Homo sapiens: one gene and its partners. The protein of the gene in region 6 purifies or fractionates together with the protein of the main gene of each other region. This does not show direct contact. Each region holds a gene or a part of one and is shown on either strand. Other genes may lie near its edges. The genes, in order: ATP1A3, FNBP1, ARHGEF19, NPHP4, FNBP1L, DAAM1 and MME.

Region 1 (3,972 bases), on a different chromosome or scaffold from region 6:
CTGGAGTACAGGCATGCAATCTCGGCTTACTGTAGCCTCCACCTCCTGGGTTCAAGCAATTCTCCTGCTTCAGCCTCCCGAGTAGCTAGAATTACAGGTGCATGCCACCACACCAGGCTAATTTTTGTATTTTTAGTAGAGATGGGGTTTCACCATGTTAGCCAGGCTGGTCTTGATCTCCTGACCTGAAGTGATCCCCGCACCTTGGCCTCCCAAAGTGCTGGGATTGCAGGGGTGAGCCACCTCGCCCAGCGAGGTCTTCAACTCCTGGGCTCAAGCAATCCTCCCACCTTGGCCTCCCAATTTGCTGGGATTACAGGCATGAGCCACCACGCCTGGCCTCCCCAAGACATCTATGCATACACAGTACACACACTGTCTCAGATACAGCCGTCTGCTCCTTCCGAATCTTGTGCATCATGCTGGAAGCCTGGGAGGCAGCTGTGAGCAGAGCAGACACCATCCCTGTTCTCACAGGGCTGGAGAGACAGCCTTAAACAAGTTAACAGATATGTAATTACAAATTGTGATATATGCCCCGAAGAAAGCAGGCCGCTGTGATAGATAATAGTGAGGGTCCTGCCCAGATGGGGTGGACAGGGAAGGCCTCTCTGAAGTGAGGGAAGAAATACCTAACTTCCGTCAGGGGCCAGGCACGGGGGCTCACGCCTGTAATCCCAGCACTTTGGGAGACCAAGGCGGGAGGATCGCTTGAGCCCAGGAGTTCAAGACCTGCCTGTACAACAAATTAAGACCTCAAAGATCAAAAAATTTTAAAAATTAGCAGGGCGTGGTGTTGCACACCTGTAGTCTCAGAGACTTGGGGGGCTGAGGCAGGAGGATCACTTGAGCCTGGGTGGTCGAGGCTGCCATGAACCATGATGGTGCCACTGCACTCCAGCCTGGGATAGAGCGAGATCCGAGACCCTGTCTCAAACAAACAAACAAAATAACTTCCAACGGGGGCATTCCAGATATACCCAAAAGTAAAGCAAAGGCACAGTGGGCCCCTGCGCCTCCATCCCACCTGCAGCGGCAGTCAGCGCACGGCACACCTTGTTTCTTCCCCACCACCTGGAACACACACTGGATTATGCTGATGCACATTTGTCACCATTTCATCCATAAATAGTTTAGGATGAGAAACCCCTAGTTTGTGGAGAAGAGCACAATGCAGGGAACGAGAATATCAGGTGGGAGCGGCCCAGGCCCTTATTGCTATGCAAGAGACATCAAAGCAATCAAAGAAGCCACACCACAGGCAGCCTGCTTCACCTTCCCTTCCCTCCCTCCCTCCCTTCCTCCCTCCCTCCGTCCCTGCCTGCCTGCCTTCCTTCCTTCTTTCCTTCCTTCCTTCCTTCCTTCCTTCCTTCCTTCCTTCCTTCCTTCCTTCCTTCCCCTTCCTTCCTTCCTTCCCCCTCCCCTCCCCTCCCCTTTTTTTGATGGAGTCTTGCTCTGTTGCCAGGCTGGAGTGCAGTGGCGTGATGTTGGCTCACTGCAACCTCCACCTCCCAGCTTCAAGCGATTCTTCTGCCTCAGCTTCCCACATAGCTGGAACTACAGGCACACACCACCACTCCCAGCTAATTTTTTGTGTTTTAGTAGAGATGGGGTTTCACCATGTTGGCCAGGATAGTCTCGATCTCCTGACCTCGTGATCCACCCGCCTCAGCCTCCCAAAGTGCTGGGATTACAGGTGTTTGCCACCGTGCCCGCCTGTTCTTTCTTAATGATTGACCTCATTGTTCATGGGCTAATCTTTTTACTTATTTATTTATTTAGAGACAAGGTCTCACTCTGTTGCCCAGGCTGGAGCGCAGTGCTGCAATCATCAGTCACTGCAACCTCGACCTCCTCAAGTGATCCTCCCACCTCAGCCTCCCAAGTAGCTGCGACCACAGGCTCGAGCCACCGTGCCTGACTAATGTTTATTTTATTTTATTTTATTTTTTTGAGATGGAGTCTTGCTCTGTTGCCCAGGCTGGAGTGCAATGGCACAATTGCGGCTCACTGCAACGTCTGCCTCTGAGGTTCAAATGATTCTCCTGCCTCAGCCTCCCAAGTAGCTGGGGTTACAGGTGCCCACCACCACGCCCAGCTAATTTTTGTATTTTTAGTAGAGATGGGGTTTCATCATGTTGGCCAGGCTGGTCTTGAACTCTTGATCTCAGGCAATCCTCCTGCTTCGGTCTCCCAAAGTGTTGGGATTACAGGTGTGAGCCCCAGCGCCTGGCCTGGATTAATCTTTATTTTGTTTACTTTAGACAACCTGTACTGGTTGAATATTTATTGAGATATGGCATGCATACAGTGAGTTGGGCATATTATATCTCATTAAAATATTCAACCAGACAGGGTGTATAAATTTTTACACATGTACACAGCCATGCAACCACCAGACCCCAGTCAAGATAGAAAACCATTCCAGCCCCCCATTTAGGTTTTGTCTGCTCTCTTCCAGTCTATATCCCTCCTCCTAGACATAACCATTATCCTGACTTTTAGCCCAGAGACGGGTGCTGAGCCTGCTCCAGTTGGAGTTGGATGCTAAGAATGCTTTTGTGTCTGGCTCGTGTCACTCAGCACGGGATCCAAGGTCCAGCTGTGGAGTTGTGTCCGTAGCTCGCCCCTTCTTGCTGTGTAGTATTTGACTGCATGGATGTACCGTGGTTTATTCATCCCTCACCTGTTGATGGACATGGGGTTGACTCTGGCTTTTGGCTCTGATGAGTGGTGCTATGGTGAACATTCTCGTACTTGCTTTTCGCTGGGCATAAACAGTCCTCCTCTCTTTTGGGTATAAAACCTAGGAGTCGGATTACTCGGTCGGTGGGGTGGGGGATGTTTGATAGCAACTCCGAAACCATCTTCCAAAGTGGTTATTTCAAGAATGTTTCCACAAAGGCGATGTGGTTGGATGTTTATGTGGAAAGGTAGGTGGGTGAGGGGCCAGGTGTGGAGACTTATGCCTGTAATCCCAGCACTTCGGGAGGCTGAGATGGAATCACAGCCCAGAAATTAGACAAGCCTAGGAAAAGTGGTGAGACTCTGTCTCTACTAAAAATACAAAAATTAGCTGGACGTGGTGGCGCGTGACTGTAGTCTCAGCTACATGGGAGGCTGAGGCAGGAGGATCACTTGAGCCTGGGAGTCGAGGTTGCAGTGAGCCGTGATCATGCCACTGCACTGCAGCCTGGGCAACAGAGTGAGACCCTGTCCCAAAAAGAAAATAATGGTGGGTGGGCTGGGGGGTAGAAAAGGACGCTGGACAGGCCGGGCGCGGTGGCTCACGCCTGTAATCCCAGCACTTCAGGAGGCCGAGGAGGGCAGATCACGAGGTCAGGAGATTGAGACCATGCAGGCTAACACAGTGAAACCCCGTCTCTAATAAAAATACAAAAAAATTAGCCGGGCGTGGTGGCAGGTGCCTGTAGTGCCAGCTACTCGGGAGGCTGAGGCAGGAGAATGGCGTGAACCCGGGAGGCGGAGCCTGCAGTGAGCCGAGATCGCACCACTGCACTCCAGCCTGGGCAACACAGCGAGACTCTGTCTCAAAAAAAAAAAAAAAAAAAAAAAGGACGTTGGATGAGGGCAGAGGAGGGGCAGAGGGAGTGGGGCTCCCTGGCATGGGCGCCTGCTCTGAGCCTGCCTGTGCCACAGGCCGCCTGATCTTCGACAACCTAAAGAAGTCCATTGCCTACACCCTGACCAGCAATATCCCGGAGATCACGCCCTTCCTGCTGTTCATCATGGCCAACATCCCGCTGCCCCTGGGCACCATCACCATCCTCTGCATCGATCTGGGCACTGACATGGTGAGCCCTGGCAGCCACCCTTGGGGCCCAGGAGGGTGGAGTCCTCCCCTCTCCGGCTCACCCGGCCTCCTCCGCCTAGGTCCCTGCCATCTCACTGGCGTACGAGGCTGCCGAAAGCGACATCATGAAGAGACAGCCCAGGAACCCGCGGACGGAC
Region 2 (3,972 bases), on a different chromosome or scaffold from region 6:
CCAGCCTGACCAACATGGTGAAACCTCGTCTCTACTAAAAATACAAAATTAGCCGGGCGTGGTGGCACATGCCTGTAATCTCAGCTACTCGGGAGGCCGAGGCAGGAGAATCACTTGAACCCGGGACAAGTGGCATCACACTCCAGCCTGGGCAACAGAGCAAGACTCTGTCTCAAAACAAACAAACAACAACAACAAAAAAATTGGGAGGCTGAGGCTGGTGGATCACCTAAGGTCAGGAGTCAGACCAGCCTGACCAACATGGTGAAACCCCATCTCTACTAAAAATAGAAAGGTTAGCCGGGTGTGGTGGTGCACACCTATAGTCTCAGCTGCTCGGGAGGCTGAGACAGGAGAATCGCTTGAACCGGGGAGGTGGAGGTTGCAGTGAGTTGAGATTGCACCACAGCACTCTGGCCTGGGCAACAAGAGCAAGACTCCATCCCCCACAACCCCCCCAAAAAATAACAGACAAAAGAGAAGCAGTTGGAGCCACGAGGGTACCTTTCTCCTGAGAGAGATCCAAGTGAGACAGAAGAAGACTAGAGAAGAGAACCAAAGATTTATCCAGTGAGAAATACTTACCATTCTGGGAGGGAGGAGAAAGAGGGCCCTGGAGGACTTAGAGAGGGTCCCTAGAGAGACAGAGGTAAGAACCTGGACATTTCTGTGCAGAAGGAGATGGTTTTGAGGCAGTGGGTGAGGGGTCCGTGCATCTGAGAAGGTCCGAGTGGGGTGAATTTTGTGTGGACTTCATCTTCGACGACACTTGTTTCATTGCGAAGGCCACTGTTTGCTTCCTCCCTGCATTTGCCAAGACATCTAACATATCCTGATATTGCTTTTTCAGGTCAGAATGAAGGAACGATTTCCGTAGTTGAAGGAGAAACATTGTATGTCATAGAGGAAGACAAAGGCGATGGCTGGACCCGCATTCGGAGAAATGAAGATGAAGAGGGTTATGTCCCCACTTCATATGTCGAAGTCTGTTTGGACAAAAATGCCAAAGGTGCTAAGACTTATATTTAATACCATAAAAAAAAAAAACTTAAAAAAAATGGAGTTGTTTCTCCCCACAACCATGACTGTTACAGGCAGTTCCTCAAGAGACTGGCTGGCAAGCACCATAATGCACGTTCTCCTGTAGTCTCACGTGGACTTCAGGGTCTGGGCACCTGAATTGCCTTGTCTAGTTTGGGCTGTAATCAAGTTTCACTTGCTGATGAAATTTTATGTGGAAAGCTGCCAACCGCCAACTTACAGCTATGTCATTCAAAATCTGATAAACATTTCTTCTTTTGGCGGTATCTGTAGATTAAAAAAAAAGTTGCATTGTAGCTTCTCATCTTTCTGAATTTAAAAGCCGGCACGCATCATGCAGGTGCCAAAGACTTCCCTACTCTTGTTTATATCTAGTATCCACCATACACTGAGCTACATTAGGTGGTTACAGATTGTAACTTAATAAACTGAACTGTGTTAGTTTGTTAAATTGTATACTCATTCACTTGGGAGGAAGTCACAAGTGAAATAACATCTCCTTCTTGACTAAAGCAGTAAATAAGATTCTTATATTGGCACCAAAAGTGTGTGTTTTTACTTAAACCTGGTCAGCATCCTTGGTAGGGCATCACGAGTACCCTGTTCCATCTACATGATCCCAGACAACCAGCTGAAATCTGGAAAAGTTTGGTGAATTGACCACTTGATTTTTACATTGCATTGCTGATTTTCCAAGTGTCATCAAATTGACAGGTTTTTGTTGTTGTGTTTGTGTTTTTGTTGTTGTTGTTGTTTTGAGACAGAGTCTGGCTCTGTTGCCCAGGCTGGAGTACAGTGGCTCACTGCAACCTCCGCCTCCCCCAGGTTCAAGCGATTCTCCTGCCTCAGCCTCCCGAGTAGCTGGGATTACAGGTGTGCACCACCACGCCTGGCTAATTTTTGTATTTTTAGTAGAGACGGGTTCGCTCTGTTGGCCAGGCTGGTCTCAAACTCCTGACCTCAAGTGATCTGCCTGCTTCTGCCTCCCAAAGTGCTGGGATTATAGGCGTGAGCCACCGCACCTGGCCCAAATTGACAGTTGATCAGATGTGCTAGTGCTGTTTAGATGGAGTTACTTAAAAGGCAGAGCGTGTCCCTGCATCAGCTCCTTTTGGCTGTGATTTCCTCTCACACTTGGTTCGGTTTCTGTTGGTTTTCCAAGTAGAGCTGCACTCACGCTTGCCCAGGTGGGGCTATAAAGAGAACGTGGTGTGGCAGCAAATGCTTCTCCCCACAGACACAGATCTCAGCACATTGCTGTTCAAAGACTTTGGGGGTTTGCTTTTGTTTTTTTGTTGTTGTTGTTTTTGTTTTGTTTTGTTTCTGCTTTTAATCATTGGCAAGGTTTGGATTTACTGGAAATTATTTTAGAATTTCTGGCTCATTTTATACAATTAACTGTAGCCAGAATGAAGTAAAATGTCTCACCACATCGAAAGGAATCTAGGCCACATGAGAATTTGCATTTTTAAATTGGCATTGATGTGGGAGGGGAGATAGTGAAGTTGGTCACATGCGTAGATGGTTGCCAGGCATTTCACTGTGCCCATTTCCAGAATCCACCCCGAGATCATAGACAACCCACTACAAATGGGTCAGAATGAAGGTGTTGGGTCAGATTCTCTTTTTATTTGATTTTGAAAATTATTTCCTTGTGTCCTTCCTACTTTCAAGTAGGAAATTAGCCCCTGCCTGCCTCTACATTGTGGGTTCATTTGATCAGCTCAAGTCCATTTAAAGCTGATTTTCCAAGCAGTAGCTGCACATTCGGGCTCTAGAACCTAGTAGGGGTTCTGGATGCTAGGGGCCGTGTTTCAAGATTCTCACAGCCAGTTAACCTTTATTTAGTGACAGCCTGATTTTTTAAAAAACTTTTTTTTTTTTTTTTTTTGAGATGGAGTCTCGCTCTGTCGCCAGGATGGAGTGCGGTGGCACAATCTTGGCTCACTGCAACCTCTGCCTCCTGAGTTCAAGCGATTCTCCTGCTTCAGCCTCCCAAGTAGCTGGGACTACAGGCGTGTGCCACCATGCCCAGCTAATTTTTTGTATTTTTAGTAGAGACAGGGTTTCACCGTGTTAGCCAGAATGGTCTTGATCTCCTGACCTCATGATCTGTCCACCTCAGCCTCCCAAAGTGTTGGGATTACAGGCATGAGCCCGTGCCTGGCTTTTTTTTTTTTTTTTTTTTTTTTTGAGACAGAGTCTCACTCTGTCACCTAGACTCAAGGGCAATGATACAATCCTGGCTCACTACAACCTCTGCCTCCCGAGTTCAAGTAATTCTTGTGCCTCAGCCTCCCCAGTAGCTGGGATTACAGGTGCCTGCCACCACACCCGGCTAATCTTTGTATTTTTTTTTTTTTTTAGTAAAGACAGGTTTTCACCATGTTGGCCAGGCTTGTCTCAAACTCTTGGGCTCAAGTGATCCGCCCGCCTCAGCCTCCCAAAGTGCTGGGATTACAGGGTGAGCCACCGTGCCAGGCCCAAATTTCTTTTGGATACTTTTGCTGGCATAGTATCAATAAAGCCACCCATCCCGACCCCAGGCCTCTTTGTAGATATTGCAGCAAGAAAATCAGCTGACCCTTCAACCACAAGGATCTGTTTAAATGAGCAGTAGGAAGTTTCCAGCTTTACCCAGTAAACAAGTGAATGGGAAACCTAAGGTATTAAAATCTGACCTTTCTATCCGATGACAAACTCATTTCCAGTCTGTGAACTCCTGGACAAAGCAAACTAACCACTGAAAAACTCGAAAATAGGGCAAGACGACATTAACCTTGTGAAAGTCTGCTTTGAAAAAAGGCATTCTGTCAAGCTGTGTATTTTTTTCTTGATTATTCAAATTTATTTCGTTATTCAAATTTAATTCAGAAAATAGCTCAGTTGGTTTCAGGGGGAATGGGGTGGGAGGGGTTTGGGCACATAAAT
Region 3 (4,572 bases), on a different chromosome or scaffold from region 6:
TTAGTCAGGTGTGGGGGTGCACACCAGTGGTCCCAGTTACTCAGGAGGCTTAGGTGGGAGAATCACCTGAGCCCAGGAGGTCGACGAGACTGCAAGTGAGCCCTGTAATTGCACCACTGTACTCCAGCCTGGATGACAGAGTGAGACCCTCTCACTTGAGGACATTTTATTTTATTTTTTGACAATAAATACATAAAATAGACTGGGTGCGGTGGCTCACGTCTATAATCCCAGCACTTCGGGAGGTTGAGGCGGGTGGATCACTTAAGGTCAGGAGTTCAAAAACCAGCCTGGCCAACATGGTGAAACCCTGTCTTGACTAGAAACAAAAAAAATTAGTAGGGTGTGGTGGCATGCGCCTGTAATCCCAGCTACTGGGGAGGCTGAGGCAGAAGAATTGCTTGAACCTGGGAGGCAAAGGTTGCGGTGAGCTGAGATCCCACCACTTGCTCCAGCCTGGGTGACAGAGCAAGACTCCATCTTAAAAATAAATAAATAAATAAATAAATAAATAAATAAATAAATAAATAAAATAAAATAAAATAAAATTTACTGGAGGATGTACAAAGGTTATAGCAAACACTATGACATTTTGTATAAGGGACTGGAGCAGCCATGGATTTTCGTATGGGAGGGTTCTAGAACCAATTCCCCACAGATTCTGGGTACCAAGGGACAACTGTACTCACCTGATAAGTGGTAGCAGTATCTACCTGACAGGGTCATGGTGGAGATTAAATGAGTAAATACATGTGAAGTGCTCAGGACAGTGCCTGGCACCTAGTAGGTGAACAATAAGTTAGCTTCATGACTATTAGTCTGTGTACACATCTGCATATTAATATTAGGTGCCTGGCAATTGCTGGTAGCTCAAACAGATGGCAGGTAGAATTAGGGGAAAATGCAGCTTCCCATTCCACAGGGTTGGGAAGATTGCATGCCGGGCATAGAGCATGCCCTTCTTATTGGAGGCAGTTTGACTTGGCTATTTGGCTTGGTTTATTGAGGGCTCAATTGGTATAGTCTGGGAAGGCTTCATGGTGGAGGCGGCCACTGGAGATGGTGGGGCAGGTCATTCCAGGCCGTGGGAAAGGATGGGGATTTGCAAGCAGTGGCTGTACTAGATGAGGAGAGGCTGTCCAGGATGATGCCACATGTCACATCATCAACTTTCAGGACTGATTTCTGTCTCCCAATCATAGGGATGAGTGTTCCAATTTGATAGATGTAGTAATAGGATCAGAGAGGGTCATCAGGGTTCTCAGGGTCCCTAAGGAGTGCAGGGCTTGGGAGGCTCTCTGTGAAGCTCCCAGGATGCTCCCCAGCTCCAAGAAGTCCCCTGAGCATGCTCATGTTTGGGAAGCTCCAGAAGAGTGGTGACCTGTCTCCTAGGAGCAGAAGCACTGCCTCCCCCGTCTTTAGGACCTGGGTGTAGGGTCCTTCAGAGCCTCACTTGGGCATAGGACTCCCATTGTTCCAGCCCCCCTCTTGTACCCCAGACTAGCCAAACCGGTTCTGGGGAAGGGGGGCGGGGAGCAGGCACGTTGAGACAGCCGCCTGCCTCTCTCTGCAAGGTTCCCTCCTCCTTCACCTCCCCCTCCCTGCCCCACACAATACCCAGGAGCTTGCCTTGCTCGGCTCTGGGGCCATGCTGACATGCTGACATCGCCCCCTGAGGACTTGGCTGCAACCCCAGAGCCCCCAGGGTGTCCCGGAGCCCTGGACCGTGCTGGCAGCTGGACGGAGCTCCCTGGCTGAGGTAGGGCCCCACCTGGGTGCCAGCAGTCCCATTCTCTTCCCGCCAGTTTTCCCCGCTGAGTGAGCCCTTTGTGCTGCCCGCCTGGTCTCTGATCCTGGCTCTGACCCACTATGGCCTTCTGGGGCTCTGTGAACCACTTGGCCTGGATCCACTTTCCAGCCATGACTTCCCACCTGGCTTTATTCCTTAAAGGGCAGAGAGGCTCTGGCAGGGTACCAGCTCTCCTGGGCAGCAAGGCAAGGGGCACCCGGGAGGGGGCAGGGAAAAGCTAGGTACAGGAGGCCAGAAACACTTTTTCTGATCATGGTAGTGTCCAGGGACTCTCTGGCAGCCTTGCTAAGTGGGCCCATCGTCTTCTGTAATTAGCAGCACCCACCAAGGGTACTTTCCTCGGCCCCTGCCCATCCTTCTTGGCCCAGAGACATTTATGATGAGACATGTTTCTTAGAGAGGGCATTGGGCGGTGGTGCGGTCCCTTAGGAGCCACTTTACAGATGGGAATACTGAGGCCAAGGGATGGGCTGTGAATTGCCTAAGGCCACACAGCTGGTCAGTGTCAACACTGGGCCTCAAAGCTTGGGCGGAGGTTATTCTTTTTGGGCTCCAGAGTGGCCCTTGCCTAGTAGACACAAGAGTCTCTATCCTGTGATCGTGCCTTGGGAAGGTAATGTCCCTGCTGTCTGGGGCCAGTTCTCTTTCTGAGGTTTTTGTTTGTTTTTTTCTAACAGAGATGAGCTACACACAATATGAACACAGCTTGTCCCTCTTAGCTCCCCAGCATTGAGGTTGGGTGGGCCAAACCCCTGGAGGGCCACAGGGCTGGCATCCCAGCTAGATGGGTCATTCTTATTACCCCTTGGCTTGAGCATAGGTGGAGGCTGACACACTCCTGACTTCTTCCCTGCTAGGGACCTGCCTCCAGCTTCATCTCCCCGGGAAGCCTTCTATGTCCCCTCTCCCCACATTCACCTAGCCTTCTCCTCTGCAGCCTTAACTGGGGGTGCTCCTGCTGCAAAGCCTCAATGTTTTGCCTACTTATCCCTGTGAGCCATGGGAGAGAGGGTCCCTCCCTGCCCTCCAGGAGCTTCCAGAACCCAAGTGCTAGAATCTCCCAGCATACAAAGGGGCAGGGGGCATGTGTACATGCCTGCACATGTGTGCCCCCAGAAGCAAGTGGGACTTCTGTGTCGAGGACTTCTGATTCCTGCAGAGAAAGAGACCCGTCTGTGGGCAGGGGCCTCCTTGTGCACACTCCTGCGATATAATGTGTGTCTCAGCCTCACTCCTTCATCTTCCCCATCTGTGTGAAGGCCTGAGCTGCCTTCTGTCTAGAGAAAGACTGATGATAATAAAAATACTATCCTATTTGCCGGATGAGGAGACCGAGGCTTAGGGAGACTCGCTCAGATGGGTACTTTTCAGGCTAGAGGGACAGAGGCTGATGGTACAAGCCAGAGTGGCCACCGTAGAGAGGACCCCTTTGGAGCAGCCAGTCCCCTTCTTCCCACCCTCCCAGACAGCAGGGTGAAGGGAGCAGGGGGAAGCAGTTGAGAAGCTGTGCAGAGAGACTGGGGCCTGCCATAGACCCAGCCATCTCTCGCTGGGTCCTCTTCTCCCTCCCTGTCTCCAATAGTGACTGACACTGTCACTGTTCAGGCCAAGGCTTTCCCTCTAAGTGCACTATGTATTTCAGCCGTGGAGCAGTTAACTATCACCTCCTCCAGGAAGTCTTCCTGGAATACCCAGGTTGAGTTGAGCCGAGCACCCTCCTCTGATGGTTCCTCTGGCTTGGCTCTTGCCAACCTGGATTGTAACTGTTTTCATTTTTGGCTCTCCCACTAGACTGGCAGCCCACGGGCATGAAATGTTTGTCCATCTGTCTCCCTGGGTTTTCTGGGCTTCATCTGTGTCTCTGAGGATCTGGTTGGCCTGAAATTGTCAGTGTCTCTGTCTCCATCTCTGGGTCCCTGAATGTCTCAGCATCTGTGGTTTTTCTGTTTTTGAACGTCTTGGGGTCTTGGTTTCTCAGTTACTGGCTAAGTGGTCTCTGTTTCTCTGGGTCTCTCTCAGTCTTCATTTCCTGGCTCTCCTGGTCCTGCCAGGCTGGGCACTGCCCCTTTGGCCTGAGGGGGCCTCTGGGGGGTCCTGGCTGCCCGGCCTGCCCACAGCGAGGCCAGGCTAGGGTAGGCCCCCGCCCAGCCCGCTGCCTGCTCCCTCCCTCCCTCCCTGCTTGCCTCACCACAGGGTTTGATGAATCAAACTCTTTGTCTGGGTGGGATCTCCCCCAGCCAGCTGGGCAGAGAGAGGGCTTCCCCTGCCGGAACAGCCAAACAGCATCAGCAGCGGGCCTGGGCCCAGAGAGGTGAGGGGCTGCAGGAGGGAGGCTGGCAGAGGGCCACAGGGCAAGAGCTGTGGGGGCTTGGGCCTCTCAGATCATCAGGCCTGCCCCGATCGGAGGGCTGGCTCCCCAGGGATAACTTCCTGCCCAGAAAGGACCCATCCAGCCTGGCCCACCCAGGGGCTGGAAGCTGGGGTGGGGGACAGCCCCTCTTTCACTCCAAGCCGGGGGTGCTGGGGCACCTCTTTGAACTTCGAGAAGGCCCCTGCCTGATCTGGGTGGTGGCCCGCCTGCCAGTCCATGACCCTCCCAGCCAACTTGGCATGGGTGTGGGCACCACTCAGCACTGAAGGCCGCAACTCTGGGCAAGGGTCGGGGAGATGGGGGGAGAAACATCAGAGCAAGGACCTGTGGGCTGGTGTGTGTCTGTGTGCATGTGAAGGGAACAGGAGGGTGAGAAATCTTGGGTGCCTGT
Region 4 (3,972 bases), on a different chromosome or scaffold from region 6:
AAAACCTAAAATGAAGAGGATCCCAGGATACCCGTGGGGAAGCCGACAGGGGCGCAGACTCACTGGGAAGGATCTGCCTGAGCTGGGGCCACAACACAACCTACCACATTCTGGGTCTCACAGATGACGTTCGGGTCGCTGCAGCGAACATGGACTGGGGGGTCCTCACCAAGCATTCCCACCGGAGCACCTGGAGCAGGGGAAATGTCAAAAAGAGTCTTCTCCACAGCCCCAGCCTGTGTGGAGAAGGCCCCACACATTACACACTATAGGACAGGACAGGCTCGTCACAGGTGCTCAGCAAGACACCTGCTGGGGAAACGGACGCCGCCACCTTTCCCAGGACAGCATCCAAGCACTGTGTTCCCTGCATGGACACCGCCCATCCAGCCCACTGCGGCTCGGCTGCAGCCATCTCCACAGGGAATAATCGAGGGGGCCACAAAAAAGAAAACACAGCTCCCTGGAGCAGGGAAGCCTGCACTCTGCTGTAAGGGGCACCTACCAGAAACACGCGGGCCGTCAGGTGAGGAGGTAGGTGTTCCTCCAGGCACACCTGGACCTGGGCCGCGGGAGCTGGGATTTTTTAGAAGGGCAGACTCAGCCGGCAAATGCGCACCTAGTCATCTCAGAGGTGGCAAGAGGGACACCGTTTCAAACCATAAAGGCAGGAGAGAGAATTCCCCAGGCCCCACGTGCTGCTCTGACAGCACCAGGGCATGAAGCCATGAGGCCATCTGTCACCCTCAAGAGGTATCTACTTCCAACAGGTGAGCCTGCAACATGTGGGCTGCAGGGTCAGTGCAGGACCTGCCTGGAAATGTGTGCCAGGGCGGCAGGCGGATGGCCTTCTTCAGGAAGGAGAGCTCCGGGTGATAGAAGCGGAAGACCTGGTCCACCACGTGGGGCTGCAGCTCCACAGTCAGGCAGAGCACGGCGATGGGCTTGCCACCACTCGCTCGGAACAAGACCTGTGAGGAGGCCACGCTGAGTGTTGGGATGGGCACGAGGCTTGTGAGCAGCTTCTTGTCCCTCCTTAGACAGCACACGTATCTCCACTGTTGCCAAGACCCCCTCACCCTCCACTGCCATGAGCGGGGAAGGTCGGGCATCGTCAAAGGCAGGGACTGAGTCTGCAGCAGCAGGTCTCCACCAGGAGGGGACCGCTAAGCAAGGTCTGGGCCGGCACCCACACAGGGCACCCAAGCAGCCACACTGCCATTATTCCTCGCGAGTACAGCACACTTCTTAAATGCCAGTGGAGAAGGTCTGCAGTCCCAAGTCAAAACTACTCCTGCCATGATCCCACCTCCCGACACCCTGTGTGCATGTGCGCAAGTCAGGCCAGGAGGTCCTGGAGTGGGTGGTGGCAGGGCCAAGTTCGCGGTCAAGCACGTCAGCACAAGCTCTTTGATTCCAGATGGCAAAAAGAGGCTGTGCCTAAACCAAAGGGGTTAGAAATAGAAACTTTCCTGGTTTCAAAAGAGCTACTCATTAAAAACCATATTGTCTGAAGAGGTATTAATTGGGACAACTGATAAAAAGGCTATATTTGTTTCAAGATACACACAACCACAGAGACATGCATACTCACACACACGCACCCACACACACGCATGCACTCATGCACCCACACATGCACCCATACACATACACATACATGCACACCCACATGCATGCAGGCACACGTGCACACACATGCAAACATGCACCCATGCATGCACACACGCATCCAGCCACAAATGCACACACATGCATGTACACATATACATGCACGCATGCCCCACACACACACATGCACGCCCACATGCATGCACCCACACATGTACACATATGCATGCACCCACATGCACACACGCACACAATGCACACATACATGCACACACATCCACCCACACATGCACACACGCACCCACACACGCATGCACACACATACATGCACACATGCCCCCACACGCACACATATGCACGCCCACATGCATGCACCCACACATGTACACACATGCATGCACCCACATGCACACACACACAATGCACACACACATGCACACACATCCACCCACACATGCACACACACGCACCCATACACACACACATGCACACACATACATGCACACATGCCCCCACACGCACACACATGCATGCCCACATGCATGCACCCACACATGCACACATGCATGCACCCACATGCACACACGCACAATGCACACATATCCGCCCACACATGCACACACACGCACCCACATGCACACAATGCACACATACATGCACACATATCCACCCACATGCATACACATCCACCCACATGCACACACACACACACACACATGCACACCCACATGCATGCATGCATCCATACATGTACACAGATGCACAAATACAAACATGGATGCACATACACACACACCACCCACACATGCACGCACACACACACATGCATGCACACACACATGCACACACTTCACACCTGCACACACTGAGAAGGAGAGAGTGGGGCAGGGCAAGAATGGAAACAAGATCCTTCCAAATATATCTTGCTTTATAGTTTGATTTTTGACTTACTTGTTTTTAATTTTGAAAACTAAAATAAATAGAAGTGTTAATGTATTAAAAATAAACAAATCTAAGCTTCTATCAAGTTGGTGCTGTAATTATCCAGAGAAGAATTCTTTAAGTAAATGTAAATCACAGGACACAAAGGACCTAAAGACAAATGCACCTTCAGAAATCTTGCACTGACAGATAGTGTCTAGCCCTGGTTGGTACTGATGTTTTGAAATATACACGTACATAAAGATGGCCAGTGGTATTGTAGCCAAAGGGATTTGGCCAGTGTGGTCAGCAGATTGGTTATATACAGAGGAAATTAGGCAAATAAGTAAGCCAAATGCGAGCTAGGTTTCTCATGAGCAGAAATGAGAATTACAAACATGGAAAAAAACAGGAAGAAACCCGTGATGTTAAATTGGTGTTGGAAGAACTGCTGCAAATTCATGGTCTTCAGCACACTAGAAACAGTAGTCTGTGCACATACACGCACATATCTATACATCATATATGCATGATATGCACATATTGTGTATGTATGTATCTGCACCCACAGGCATACACCTCTTAGGTCTCTGCTGAGAGGGACTTAGCAGCAGTGACATCCCAGTAGTACTGAGTACATCTAACGCTCAAATCTTGGTTTCTAAATATCATTCTCCAACCAAAGGAACCCGAGCTAAATAGCTGACACTCCTGAAATGCAAGCTGAGCCTGGGGCGTCTTGCTGTGCTGGGCAGTAAGGAAAGACTCAAAGGAGGACAGGGGTGAATCAACAGGACGCAGGAGCTGGCCTGAAGAGGCTGCCCTGGTTAGTCAGGGCACGAATATGAGCAACAAAATAAATAATGATAGTAACAAAATGAATAAAATAGAAATTCATTGTTCATAAGGATATAAAAAGTAAATAGGTGAATGGGGTGAAGGCACAGCTCTACCTTACTTAAAATACCAGTAATCAACAGAGAAGGAATGATGGAATTGGAAAATCCATGGCAGGCAAGCATCCCACTACCAACCAACTCGGGCCAGGTCATCAGTGCACACTGACACCTAGTGCGTCAAAGTCTGATGAAGAATAGGGTATTTGAACGGCCTCAGTATCTCCCAACAAGATACTTACTCATGACTTTCTAATTACTAGACATTTCCTGATATTACAGGAAAAAAGCATGGCAGATGTCATCTTAACTGAATGAAAACAGTAACATCGCCAGTAACAGGACAAAGCAACACGGTGTCCCTCACAGTATGATGTTCGTAGAGGACACGGCAAATGTCTGTGGAGGTCCTGCCCCAAGTGCATAACCTGGGTCTAACTGAAACGAACACCAGACCAGCCCCACTGGGCACGCCCTGCAGGATAACCGCCTGTGCACTTCACAACAGCTGCAGCCACGCCAGAAGGACTCCATGGGCAGCAGG
Region 5 (3,972 bases), on a different chromosome or scaffold from region 6:
ATATTTAGAATCACATTACTGTCCCAAAGAGTTAATTATTGAGAATATGTTGTTACAGAAAAATGATATGTAGCCATGCACTTAAACCTGAGTCTGTTTCTTGTAACAATCATTGGAATTTTTATTGCTATTTTAATGCTTCTTAAGTCTTATGTTAAATTTGAGAAAAAAAGGAATTCAATAGAACGGCTCTAATACTGACTTTGGGGGACTTTTGTAGTGATGTGCTGAGTGGATCGTGTCAGACTTTGGTTGCGTAGTTGTTAGGGGATATGAATTAACTTGTAATAAATTTGAGCTGTGCTTACAGGGATTTCTAGTGTTCCAAATGAGTAAATAAGTTAGTGAATATATACTACAGTCACAGTTTTGCATTGTATTCTGGGTAATACCAAGGAAAGAGATGATACTGTCTTCACTTCTTCAGGATGCGTGGTAACATCTTAGGCATTGCTTATTGTGTTCATTTCTTTATTACATAGCAAGAATGGATGGATCAGATAGCCAAATATGAATTAATAATTTCACAAAGCACAGATTTTGAAATTACTAGCTTTTTTTTAACAGATAGGGACATTAGAGATTGGAAAAGACCTATGTTTAGTAAATAAGTTTTACTTATTAAGAAATAGGTTTTTAGTTTTTGAGGACCTAGTTAAAGTTCGACAGAAAAAATCTGTGTATGGGTTGTGAATGTGTGTATAAATATGAAAAAAATATATGGCTGAGCACCTCACATTCATATGATTTACTGAAAAATTTGCTACCCAAGGAAAATGCTGGACAAGTCTGGTAGTTAGAAGATGGATTCAAATATCTGATTTAATTTATAAGTGCATATAAATCTTTTTTATGCCTTAATTTCTTGGTCGATATAATCTTTGGCCCTTAGTTTAAGAATGTGTAATTTAAAAGCCATTGTTATTTTCATCATATTATTTATATTATTATTATTTTTGAGATGGAGTCTCTTCTGTTGCCTAGCCTGGAGTGCAGTGGTGCGATCTCGGGTCACTGCAACCTCAGCCTCCCTGGTTCAAGCCATTCTCCCACCTCAGCCCCCCGAGTAGCTGGGATTTCAGGTGCACACCACCATGCCCGACTAATTTTTGTATTTTTAGTAGAAACAGGTTTTCACCACGTTGGCCAGGCTGGTCTTGAACTCCTGACATTGTGATCCGCCCGCCTCGGCCTCTCAAAGTGCTGGGTTTACAGGCGTGAGCCACCGTGCCCGGTCTTCATCATATTATTAACTAAATGCATTTGACAAAGCTTATATCTTTTTGGAAGAAACTGAAAAATGTGGGTTGAGTGATAGATTAGGTGGATAATTTATGTATTATCCTCAGTGTTAACCTTTTAATACTTTATTATCTTGGCTTCATAACACTTTATATAGCACTTAAATTTACATTGTAAGTGACTAGATTGTCCTTGAGTGTAGAAAGGCTGGATTCATCTTTGTTTTCACTGACCAAGACAATGCTTGTAGGTGATCATGCATGTTTTGCCCAATTGCATTAATAGTTGATTGCATTACCCAGAGTATTGATTACTAATTAGCAAGTGTATCTTTAGGGTTCTGAAGGCCTTTGTAGATGGTGATAGGTTAGGTGATCTGGATAACAGCTCAAGAAAGTCTAAAGCTGAAACCAAAATTATAAAGTTAAGTTTTACTACTTGGGTTAAACATTTTTGTCAAGTAAAATGGTAAAAGGATGGGGAAGAAAAGACCTACAGGTAATTTCTGGTGAATTTACTTGATTGATAGCTTGGTAATGTGACTGCCTAAATAATTGGTGAAATCTTAGGCCACATTAATAGATTTATCTGTAACAAAGGAATTGGGTCTCATAGTCTACTGGTTAGACCATATCTGTAATATATATGTATATTTTTAGAGATGGGGTCTTGCTATATTCTCAGGCCAGTCTTGAACTCTGTGCTCCACAATCGTCCTTCCTTAAGCTCTCAAGAAGCTGGGACTGTCTATAATATTGACTTTAATTTTACTTCACATTTTTTGGAGGGTGCTTGTCTAGAGGAGGTTGACAAAGAAAATTCATTATTAATGTAAACTGAATTGCTTCTCCAAAAGTAAATGAAAGGCCGTGAAACTGCTGTAGGAATTCAGTTTTGTTTTAAAAATACAATAATTTTGTGTCTATTATTTGGGAAGCACTGTTATGTTTGGTGAGATTTATGAAGGCTTATGATATTGGCCCTGCCCTGACAAAAGGTAGAGTTGCTTTGAGATGATATAACTTTACTGTAAACTCCAAAATACTTCCCTACATTGATACCACTGCCCAGAATGCCCTCTGTTGACCAATTCCTATCAACCCCATGCCTCCAGACTACCCATTCTGGATATTGTCTTATGGGACTACCACCTTATATTACGGTTATTATAGTTATTTCTTGTGTATTCAAATCTTAGGGAAATTGTCATGGTATAAATACTTAAATATCTTACATTCCCTTTTGTTGGTAGAAATTGTTGTGTTCAACATTGTATTACAGACGTTATTGCTATTAGTTAAGGAGGATGAGTGAGAGGTATCAAGATATCTGTTTATGTCACCATTCCATAATGACTATAATAAGTTGGAAGCTAGAGAGCTGCCTCTAACCAGTATCTCCTTTGCATAGCCACTCATACTCCATTTACTTCCATTTGCTTGCTTTCTTTGCCTTTTTCTTAAAATATTTGCTCTCTCTCCTTCCCCCACCCTATAAACCTATAAAATATGATTTTGGCTGGAAACTTTAAAAAAACCTATTCTACCAACTTTTTCCTCTGTCAGCTAGTTTGTAGAGAGGAAATAGTAAGAGAAATAGTAATGGCTTATAAATGTCAAATACCTTCTGTGTATATCAACAAGTGCTGTCTTATTTAATAATCTTCAATCTTTAAACATTTTCACTTCAATAGCAAAAAAAAATCTGTCTTGGGGAATATATCTATAGAATATTAAAAACTGGTAGGAAAGGTTATGTAAAGGTTTTGTTCTATAGAATGTGAAAGCCGTTCCATATTTCAGTTCAGGCCATGTCTATCTAATACACCTGAAACACGTAAACAGGACTGATGCTTGTTCATTCAACAGATGTTTATTTCATGCCTATTATGGCTTCAGCACTAAGCTAGGCTTTGTGGGGCATACTAAAAGAATCAATTAGATATCAGCATGAGCCTCAAAGCAACCCTAAAACAACTAGAAAGTAATAGATGGACTTTAGGGCTATGAAAAGTGACTTTTCATTCTAGGTATCACAGGAAAATCTTTAGGAAGACTGTCATTTGACCTAGGTTTTGGAATAAGAAGGGTTATGCAGGTGGGGGTTCCTGACAGGTTCCTAGAGGGCAGATATTGTGTCTTACTCATTGCTTATTCATTGTCTGATTCATTGCTGTATCCTGCCTGGATTAGCCTGACATTAGTAGGGTCTTTAATAAATGTTTGTTGGACTGACCTGAGTCTAGTGTTGCGTTTGACTTGAATTTGAGTGCACAATGTCTGAAAGTAGTGATGAAGGGTAGACTGGAACCAGGCAGGCAAAGAGGTTGGTCTGGCTGATTGCTTGATTCATGAACCTCTTGTGTGTGTGTATGGGTGTGTCTGTGTGTGTGTGTGTGTGTGTAGTTACACATTTGTATATAATCAAACCACTTTTCAGACCATTTAAAAATTCACAGAAGAAAATCTTAGTTTATTGGTAGAAGGGATTACCTCTTGCTTCTGAATACTTTGGTGGCAGGAGGGGAATACCTCTGGGTTTTAGAAGATGAAAGTGTATTTATTTTAGCGCCGCTGCAAGAATATTTGAAGGATGTTATTTCCTTTAATAATATGTTACTAATTTGAAATTAGTTTTATTTTTAAATATATATTATTACTACAGCTCGTTTATATTGTTTTTTATTTTCCCTTTATCTGTGACTGTATACTGTAGGCCCTCCATATCATT
Region 6 (3,972 bases):
TGTTTCTATCATTTTTGTAGCAGTTTCTGAAATTTATTTTTTAAAATGCATGTGCAATGTCACTTATTTGGGAGCAATCTGAATACATATGAGGAACTCGTAACATAACAGTAGTTAGTTCACAATTGGTATTTTCTGATATCAGTTATGGCCCTGCTTTTCTGCTCAGTGGAAATGTGATGAGAGAAAAGGAAATGCTTAGGCATCTCTGGGACCTGCTTTTCAGCACATTAAATATTGGGGTGAATGCTATTGTATTTCATTGGCTGTGAGTGAATAACTTGGACAAGGAAAAGGAAGTCAGTTAACCAGTATGGTGAGAGCATGGTAGCTGGCAGTATGATTATTTCCACAAAGAGGCCAACTTCAATTTGTTAATATTTTAAAACAGGAAGGAAAATTACATACATTTCTCTGTATGGCTGGTACACTGATGGACATAAATGTCTCTCCTATCATTTGATACTAAGAGATAATATCAAAGACATATTCAAATACACACTAATAGCTGGCCAGCTAATGTTTCGTAACACATATCTCAGCAATGGTCACTGATTTTCTGAATGACTTCTCTTTTTATAACTGGTACCAAATCAAGGTCATGGACAGAATTGGGTTATTGAAACCAAGTAGGCCGGGCGCGGTGGCTCACGCCTGCAATCCCAGCACTTTGGGCAGCCAAGGCGGGTGGATCACGAGGTCAGGAGATTGAGACCATCCTGACTAACATAGTGAAACCCCATCTCTAATAAAAATACAAAAAATTAGCCGGATGTGATGGCGGGCGCCGGTAGTCCCAGCTACTCGGGAGGCTGAGGCAGGAGAATGACGTGAACTTAGGAGGTGGAACTTGCAGTGAGCCGAGATGGCGCCACTGATTCCAGCCTGGGTGACAGAGCAAGACTCCATCTCAAAAAAAAAAAAAAAAAAAAAAAAGAAACCAAGTGACCTGTTCTTCTCTTTTAAAATTTTGGATAATTCCTCAAGTCCCTTATTACATTTCTTAAAACCCAGTATGATTTAAAGAGCCATGACGGAGTAGGGGAAGGGTTTGAATTATTAGTAGTTAAGAAAATTTGATTTAAGGAATACTGAACAGCAAATGCTATAAGCTTTTCAAAACATTTACATGATTATAATAAAAGGATAAAATATTTGAGAATCAGTATGACAACTAAAATAGCTCAATTTAAGAAACTCAGTGCAAAATGCCCTTAAAAGATGGAAAAAGAAAGGCTGCCTGCACCAAGCTAACAAGAAACATCAATGTAAATTTCCAAAATATATGGAAATCAAGGTCACCCAATAACCAATAACACAGCCTCTTATCAGGGCCTCATTATTTACCTTTTCTCATTTTTTCCGCTTGTTCTTTCCACTGCTTAACTTCATTTTCATTAACCAACCTGTGTAAGAGTTCAAGGAGCATTTATTACAAAAAATATAAAAGGTCCACTGCTAACTGCATTCTCCCCAGGTACAAAAATAGTCTACTGCAGAGAAAATCCTCAGTGCATGCTTGAAACCCATTTAAGACCAGATGTTACTTAGCTATAGTGCATGTGTACAGTAACTCATATTTGACCCCTAGAACATTTCAGCTCTCCCAGCTGTTACTCTGAAGTAGGATAAAATAAATATCTTACATTGTCACCATTATCTCACAGCAGCAGAATAAGAAGAGACTTACATTCGTACGACATTCTTAATATTAAAGTTTTCCAAAGGTGTGGAGTCAGGGTCCTGTCCTTTGTCATTCTGGATAACTATCTGCTGTATAATTCTATCTAGTAGTAGCCAGTACTGAACAGTGTTGCCACTCCTCTTGTCTAAAAAAGAAAAGAATAGTGAAAAAAAATCTTCAAGTTGTTTCTAAGCTAGGATGAATATTTGTCAATGGTGGTCACCCTTTAAAGCCACCAAACCAGAGATGTTTATAACATCTGCACCAATGCTTCCCAAAGTTATGGAATTTTGACATGCAATGATCATTTATTTGATTGAGAGGTACCCTCTACCCCTTTCTGAACAGGTTGTAAGGCATATTTTTTATTTTTAAAATCAAAATTTTAATTTGTTTCATTTAAAAAATTTTGTAACACCCTTTAAGCCATGTAGACACACATACTTGGCTGTCATAAAACCAAGGCTTGGAATCCCTGGTGTGCACCCAATGTAATCAGCACTGTGCAGGAGCCAGAACCCATTAGGACAATGTCCAAACATTCAGAAGCACACATGTGAGTCACGAACACACTTACAAGGCATTTGGAGGCAGTGGTGCAGGATGGACATGAAATGCGGGTAAGCTTCACTATGTGTCAGCCTCTTCCTGGTCAGCTCAAACATCTGAGTTGCACTTTTTGTGTCTATGTGAACCTATTTCACAGGAAAAAGAAATCAAATCAAACATCTAAGTTCCTCAGTTTCCCCAGTGTAAAGTAAACTCAAAGCAAACAGAAGCTAATCCTGCCACTTAGGAAACAAAATAGAGCTTTGAGTTTGCTTTTAGGTTGCCCTAAAGTCCATGTGGACTCTACAACACACATTACAGACAGAAATAATGTGAACTGATGAATCAAACCAGAATAATTGTAAGCATACGTACCAGTTCAAATCTTTTGGCAAATTCTAGTTCATCTTCATTTCGGAGCATTTCAAAAAAGTCTAAATGCCTGAAAAATAATGAAAGAAAAGTTATTAAGTAGAACATCCTATAAACACAGGTGCATAAGACTGAGGACATTAATATCATGGTTTTTCCTGACTTTTCAGAGATATCTCAAAAAGGAACAATGTAACAAAATTTGAAAGCTTCAACTTTGTTCTTTCTAAGAAAAAAAGACATCACCTGAGCGAAACAGATCACAATATGAGAAAAATTTAAAAGTCTACGATGCCTAGCATACAGTAGGCAATTATTAAATTAAAACTAAATCTAAAAACAATCAAGTTCAGATTCCACTATGGATTCCCTTTATGGAAAAACATGCCCATATACCTACACTTAACTTCCAGCTGAATTAAAGATCACAAAAGAAATGATCATGCCATTCATTTATTCAGTCACATATGTATTGAGCTCCTACTATGTATTCTACACACCCAGGATACATTTTATGAAGACAAACACATCAGGGTAAAGGAAATAGAAAATGATGGCAGATGAGGTGAATAATGTACACACAGTGGTTAGAACAGGTCTCTCTCCAGGGAACTAGGGAACCAACAATTTGGACATCTGTGAAAGATCTTTTGAAGCTGAGGAAACAGCAAGCGCAAAGGCACTGATGCAAGAGTGTTCACAGAATATCAAGAAGAAGAGCATGTTGGAGTATATGAATATACAGGAGAGGAGAGCCGTGGTAGAGAAAAGCTCTGAAAGCAAGTTGGGATAGCTTAGACTCAGTGAAATGATAGCAAACGATGAAATGAACAGGTAGTGGAAATTAACATTCACAGAATGCCTATCAAAGGGGCTAAGTAATTCCATAGGTTTTATAGTCAATTTTTACATCATTCCTGGAAAATCACTGTCATTATCATCATCACCACCAGCACTATCTTTTGCAGTTATAAAAACAGCAAAATTCAGAAAAATTGAGTAACTTCACCAGGATACACAGGAATAAGAGGCAGGACTAGGATAGGATATGAATTCAGGTCTAATGCTAAAACCCACATTAAGTTCTCTACATAATGTGCTGCTTCCCTCATCAACAAAGTCTTACTATGAAAACATCATTAGCTGAACTAACATTCTGATACAAGCTCTTTATGTTACAGACAGGGCACAAGTAACCACAGGCCAGCACTTGATGAGGTATTGCATTACACAGATGGGAAACACAGAAACTTTCTCACATCATAATAGTCTGACTTACCTATCTAATGTTGAATTTTCGTGTTCCCTTAATTTATCTATTACAGGTTGAATTCCTAACATCAGAAATTCATAGCGAAGATGAAGTC
Region 7 (3,972 bases), on a different chromosome or scaffold from region 6:
AATATTTAGGCTTATATCCCCTTAATTTTCCCCCTAAATTTCTACAGTACGCTTTTACTGCATGATGATACAGCTTTATTTTGAACAGTGACCAAATGTGTTCTTTACAAAGAATATTGACGAGTTGTGTAGTCTTGAACACGTTGCCTGACTTCTCTGTGCCCCAGTTTCCTAATTCTTTATTCTATTCTGTGGCAGTGTCCACTTTTTGGTTTAAAGTTTTTAACACATCTCCAGTTGAGGTGAAAGATTTTAGGAATACAGGTATGTTTTTGCATACCCTGCTTTATACAGGACTACAAGTATCAACTTGGTAACTTTTTGTACTATTTTGTTTACTTATCCCCCTTACTCCCCTCTTAAATGGGATTGGGCGTGGTTAGGTTGGATATTCAGGTATCTTTTGGTACAGTGAGTGACCATTTTCAGAATGTTGTCTAACCAGTTAATAGATACTGGTATCAGTAGTAGTAGTAATTTTGAACTGTAAAAATAAAGGTTGTTTTTATGACTAAAATAAACTACTTCATGTGTTCATTCGTTTTGCTGTTTATCTATATTAATATTTCAAATTATTGCTTAGTCAAAACCTCAAGGTATTAGTCACTGGTTTTTGAGCTTATAAAGGAAGCCACTGGAGCAAGATATAAAATTAACCATTGATGTTAGTCCAGAGTTCAAAAGGGTGAGTTTAAAACTTTCTTAATGATGGTACAGCAATTATTTGCTTATAAACTGCTGAATTAATCCTACTTGAGTATTTAACCAAGTCTTACTGTCTAATTTTGCTGAGATTTTCAGTGATATACCAAAGCAAAACAAAACAAAACAACAGCAACAAAAAACAAAAGGTTGTGACTGAGACCTGTCAAATTCATTTGGCTCTATATACTTTGCATTCAGCAACAAAATTTTGACTTCTCAACAGCAAAAATGTATTTCTATTTTAAAATAACTGAGCCTTTTACTTTTATCCAGCCACATTAAGCATTTGGACATTTTCTTTTTTATTTATTTGTTTTTCATTATTAGTATTTTCATTTTTTGCAGATTTTAGGTGATGGGCAAGTCAGAAAGTCAGATGGATATAACTGATATCAACACTCCAAAGCCAAAGAAGAAACAGCGATGGACTCCACTGGAGATCAGCCTCTCGGTCCTTGTCCTGCTCCTCACCATCATAGCTGTGACAATGATCGCACTCTATGCAACCTACGATGGTGAGTTACTCCCACACCTGTGCATCCATAAGTGCAAAAGAGAAGGAAATCTTCCTCCATGCTTTTACCATCTATCCAACGAATGTGTTAAGGATAGAGGCACTTAAAGACTGACAAAGAGATTCATTTATAAAATGTAACATCAATATGTCAAAATAATTAACTTTGAAGTACGGTGCCTTTTATGTTTGAGCTAAGTTATTAATTGCAAGTATATTTAGTGCGCTCACGCTTACTTATGAGGAATCTAAAGTATGGTTTTATTTGATTAAAATATACACAATTTTATGGCCAGCTTTAGTAATAGTCATTAGTCAACTTTTGTTGTGTCATTGAAATTCTAAACGGCTTCACAGGAATTTAACAAATTTAATTTGAGTCTTGGAAGTTTTTTACAACAAGGATGAAAAAAGATTGATTGTTTAATGGTTAAAAAAATGATTACCAAGCAAAAACAACTGATTATTTCAATTTAATAGGCCTGGGGCTTCGTTGGTAGAGAAGATATAATAACACATTTTTCTTCATAATCAAAATTTTAAATTTAGATTTTACTTATTTTATTTTCTTATATTTTTTCTAACCACTGACAATGATATATAATGTTCAGTTTTTAGTTCTTGCTTTAAGAAATTGCTTATTTAATTGGCAGTTTTTAAAAGAACAAAAGAAAAATAGAAATTTAAAAATTTGTGTTGCCAATATTTATGTATATTCTCTCCTTTTTCTAGATGGTATTTGCAAGTCATCAGACTGCATAAAATCAGGTAAGAAATGGTTTTTACGTGTAATAGTTATACAACTGATGTATAATATTTAAAATTAAATGCTAATCTTAATTTGCTTTGTTTACACTTTTATTCATTGTAGATCAATTATTTATGTGTCTGGCTCTATAATCAATGGAAATAAAAATATATTTAAGTAGTAGATTAATTAACTTGTTTACTCTGAAAAATATATTACTATTTTCAGCCCTGGGCTGTATAGCAGGGCAATAGAAAACTATATCGCTATTTGTATGGAGCTTGCCATGTAGTTGAAGAAAGAAAATGAACACATATGAAATGGTAAGTTTCGTATCATTGTGTTAAATGTCTCAGTGCACCTCACTAGGTGGGTGAGAAGAAGGGAGTGAGATGTAGGCATGTAAATCTAGGTGGAGAAGTTAAAATCTGGGAAGAAATTTCATTTTATTTATTTTTTTTATTTTTTATATTTTGAGACAGAGTCTCGCTCTGTCGCCCAAGCTGGAGTGCAGTGGCGTGATCTCGGCTGACTGCAATCTCCGCCTCCCGGGTTCTAGCAATTCTCCTGCCTCAGCCTCCCAAGTAGCTGGGACTACAGGTACCCACCACCACGCCTGGCTAATTCTGTATTTTTGGTAGAGACGGGGTTTCACCATATTGATCAGGCTGGTTTCGAACTCCTGCCCTCAGGTGATCTGCCCCCCTCGGCCTCACAAAGTGCTGGGATTACAGGCGTGAGCCACCGCACCCAGCCTTAAATTTGGGAAGAACCTTGAAGCAGGGCTAGAATTTAGATGTGGCGGTGCAGAAGAGGGAATTCCAAACACAAAAGAAAGAAACTATGTTATTGAGAAGTAGTAAAAGTGTACGCTTGATAGAAGGACACATTATGGAGAACCTTGAAATCCATGTTTAGCCTTGATATTGTAATACAGGAGAAACAGATATTTTTGAACAGAGGAGTGATCAGGCCAAAGGTGAAAGATGATTCTGCGAATGTGAGGTTGACTGGATTGAGTGAAAAGGAGGGCAGGCAGGTGGGGGCTGCTTCTGTACTCCAAGTGTAAGCTGAAGAGGTTGGCCTGTGGTGAGAGAAGAGTACTATTGAGATAATGGGGAGGGAGAATTGGGTGACTCAGTAGAACTGACTTGCTAAATAAAATGAATGAATTGAGAATGATGCCAAGTTTTAAAACCCAAGGGACTAAAGAGAATGGAGGCAGCCCACACAGAAATAGAGAGGTTATGAGGTGGATGTGGATGTGTTTGGTCTAAGATGAAAATAGACAGGAGGAAGGTAGAGATGAGGTTTAAGAAGCTGGAATTTGGATTTGAGATCTGTCAGTTTAGGAGTGATAGTGGAAGCCTTGGAAGTATTTGAGTTCTCAAAAGAAGAGAAGAGGTTCAAGGGCTAAACTTAAGAAGAGGTTCAAGGGCTAAACAACATCAATGATTAGAAGAGAAGAAAAATAAGTCAGAGCAGAAAACAGAGAAGTGTATGAAGCTATATAAATCCCATCAATTGGAGTGTGGTGAAAATGGGAGTATTTCTTCTTTCTTCAAGAAAAAGGAAGGTGGTAGCTGAGGGCAGCACCTGGGATATGAACACAATATTTGTGTCCTTTAACAAGAGATTCTAAACCTCCTTTCTAACATCTATGTGTCTTATAAGAAATAAATAAACTGTTCCAAATAATTTTAACCATTTTCTGCTGGATATTTTTAATTTTATTTATTTATTTATTTGAGGCAGGATCTTGCTCTGTCACCCAGGCTGGAGTGCAGTATTGTGATCACAGCTTACTGCAGCCTTGATCTCCTGGGCTCAAGGCATCCTCCTGCCTGAGCCTCCTGAGTAGCTGGGACTATAGGCACCTGCCACCATTCCTGGCTAGGTTGTGGGTTTTTTGTTTTTTTTGTTTTTTTTTGTTTTTTTTTTTTGTAGAGACAGGGTCTCACTATGTTGCCCAAGCTTGGTCTTGAACTCCTGAGATCAAGCAGTC

Evidence for each region.
Region 1: the proteins of DAAM1 (region 6) and ATP1A3 purify together in Homo sapiens (co-immunoprecipitation; one large-scale study listed by IntAct). This does not show direct contact.
Region 2: the proteins of DAAM1 (region 6) and FNBP1 purify together in Homo sapiens (pull-down; one study listed by IntAct). This does not show direct contact.
Region 3: the proteins of DAAM1 (region 6) and ARHGEF19 purify together in Homo sapiens (co-immunoprecipitation; one study listed by IntAct). This does not show direct contact.
Region 4: the proteins of DAAM1 (region 6) and NPHP4 purify together in Homo sapiens (co-immunoprecipitation; one study listed by IntAct). This does not show direct contact.
Region 5: the proteins of DAAM1 (region 6) and FNBP1L purify together in Homo sapiens (co-immunoprecipitation; one study listed by IntAct). This does not show direct contact.
Region 7: the proteins of DAAM1 (region 6) and MME purify together in Homo sapiens (co-immunoprecipitation; one study listed by IntAct). This does not show direct contact.

The regions. Positions count from the first base shown.
Region 1 is NC_000019.10:41,970,231-41,974,202, reverse strand, and holds part of ATP1A3 (sodium/potassium-transporting ATPase subunit alpha-3), read left to right. Parts: intron 1-3,660; coding exon 3,661-3,815; intron 3,816-3,894; coding exon 3,895-3,972. UniProt on the Homo sapiens protein: This is the catalytic component of the active enzyme, which catalyzes the hydrolysis of ATP coupled with the exchange of sodium and potassium ions across the plasma membrane.
Region 2 is NC_000009.12:129,892,875-129,896,846, reverse strand, and holds part of FNBP1 (formin-binding protein 1), read left to right. Parts: intron 1-850; coding exon 851-1,009; coding exon of another isoform or gene 1,010-1,029; exon of another isoform or gene 1,030-1,586; intron 1,587-3,972. UniProt on the Homo sapiens protein: May act as a link between RND2 signaling and regulation of the actin cytoskeleton. Required to coordinate membrane tubulation with reorganization of the actin cytoskeleton during the late stage of clathrin-mediated endocytosis.
Region 3 is NC_000001.11:16,209,689-16,214,260, reverse strand, and holds the start of ARHGEF19 (rho guanine nucleotide exchange factor 19), read left to right. Parts: upstream 1-1,608; 5' UTR 1,609-1,759; intron 1,760-4,047; exon of another isoform or gene 4,048-4,121; intron 4,122-4,572. UniProt on the Homo sapiens protein: Acts as a guanine nucleotide exchange factor (GEF) for RhoA GTPase.
Region 4 is NC_000001.11:5,866,926-5,870,897, forward strand, and holds part of NPHP4 (nephrocystin-4), read right to left. Parts: intron 972-3,972; coding exon 815-971; intron 191-814; coding exon 105-190; intron 1-104. UniProt on the Homo sapiens protein: Involved in the organization of apical junctions; the function is proposed to implicate a NPHP1-4-8 module. Does not seem to be strictly required for ciliogenesis. Required for building functional cilia.
Region 5 is NC_000001.11:93,450,713-93,454,684, forward strand, and holds part of FNBP1L (formin-binding protein 1-like), read left to right. Parts: intron 1-3,972. UniProt on the Homo sapiens protein: Required to coordinate membrane tubulation with reorganization of the actin cytoskeleton during endocytosis. May bind to lipids such as phosphatidylinositol 4,5-bisphosphate and phosphatidylserine and promote membrane invagination and the formation of tubules.
Region 6 is NC_000014.9:59,324,367-59,328,338, reverse strand, and holds part of DAAM1 (disheveled-associated activator of morphogenesis 1), read right to left. Parts: coding exon 3,885-3,972; intron 2,676-3,884; coding exon 2,609-2,675; intron 2,380-2,608; coding exon 2,262-2,379; intron 1,830-2,261; coding exon 1,691-1,829; intron 1,407-1,690; coding exon 1,348-1,406; intron 1-1,347. UniProt on the Homo sapiens protein: Binds to disheveled (Dvl) and Rho, and mediates Wnt-induced Dvl-Rho complex formation. May play a role as a scaffolding protein to recruit Rho-GDP and Rho-GEF, thereby enhancing Rho-GTP formation. Can direct nucleation and elongation of new actin filaments.
Region 7 is NC_000003.12:155,083,108-155,087,079, forward strand, and holds part of MME (neprilysin), read left to right. Parts: exon of another isoform or gene 1-935; intron 936-1,050; 5' UTR 1,051-1,060; coding exon 1,061-1,220; intron 1,221-1,951; coding exon 1,952-1,987; intron 1,988-3,972. UniProt on the Homo sapiens protein: Thermolysin-like specificity, but is almost confined on acting on polypeptides of up to 30 amino acids. Biologically important in the destruction of opioid peptides such as Met- and Leu-enkephalins by cleavage of a Gly-Phe bond.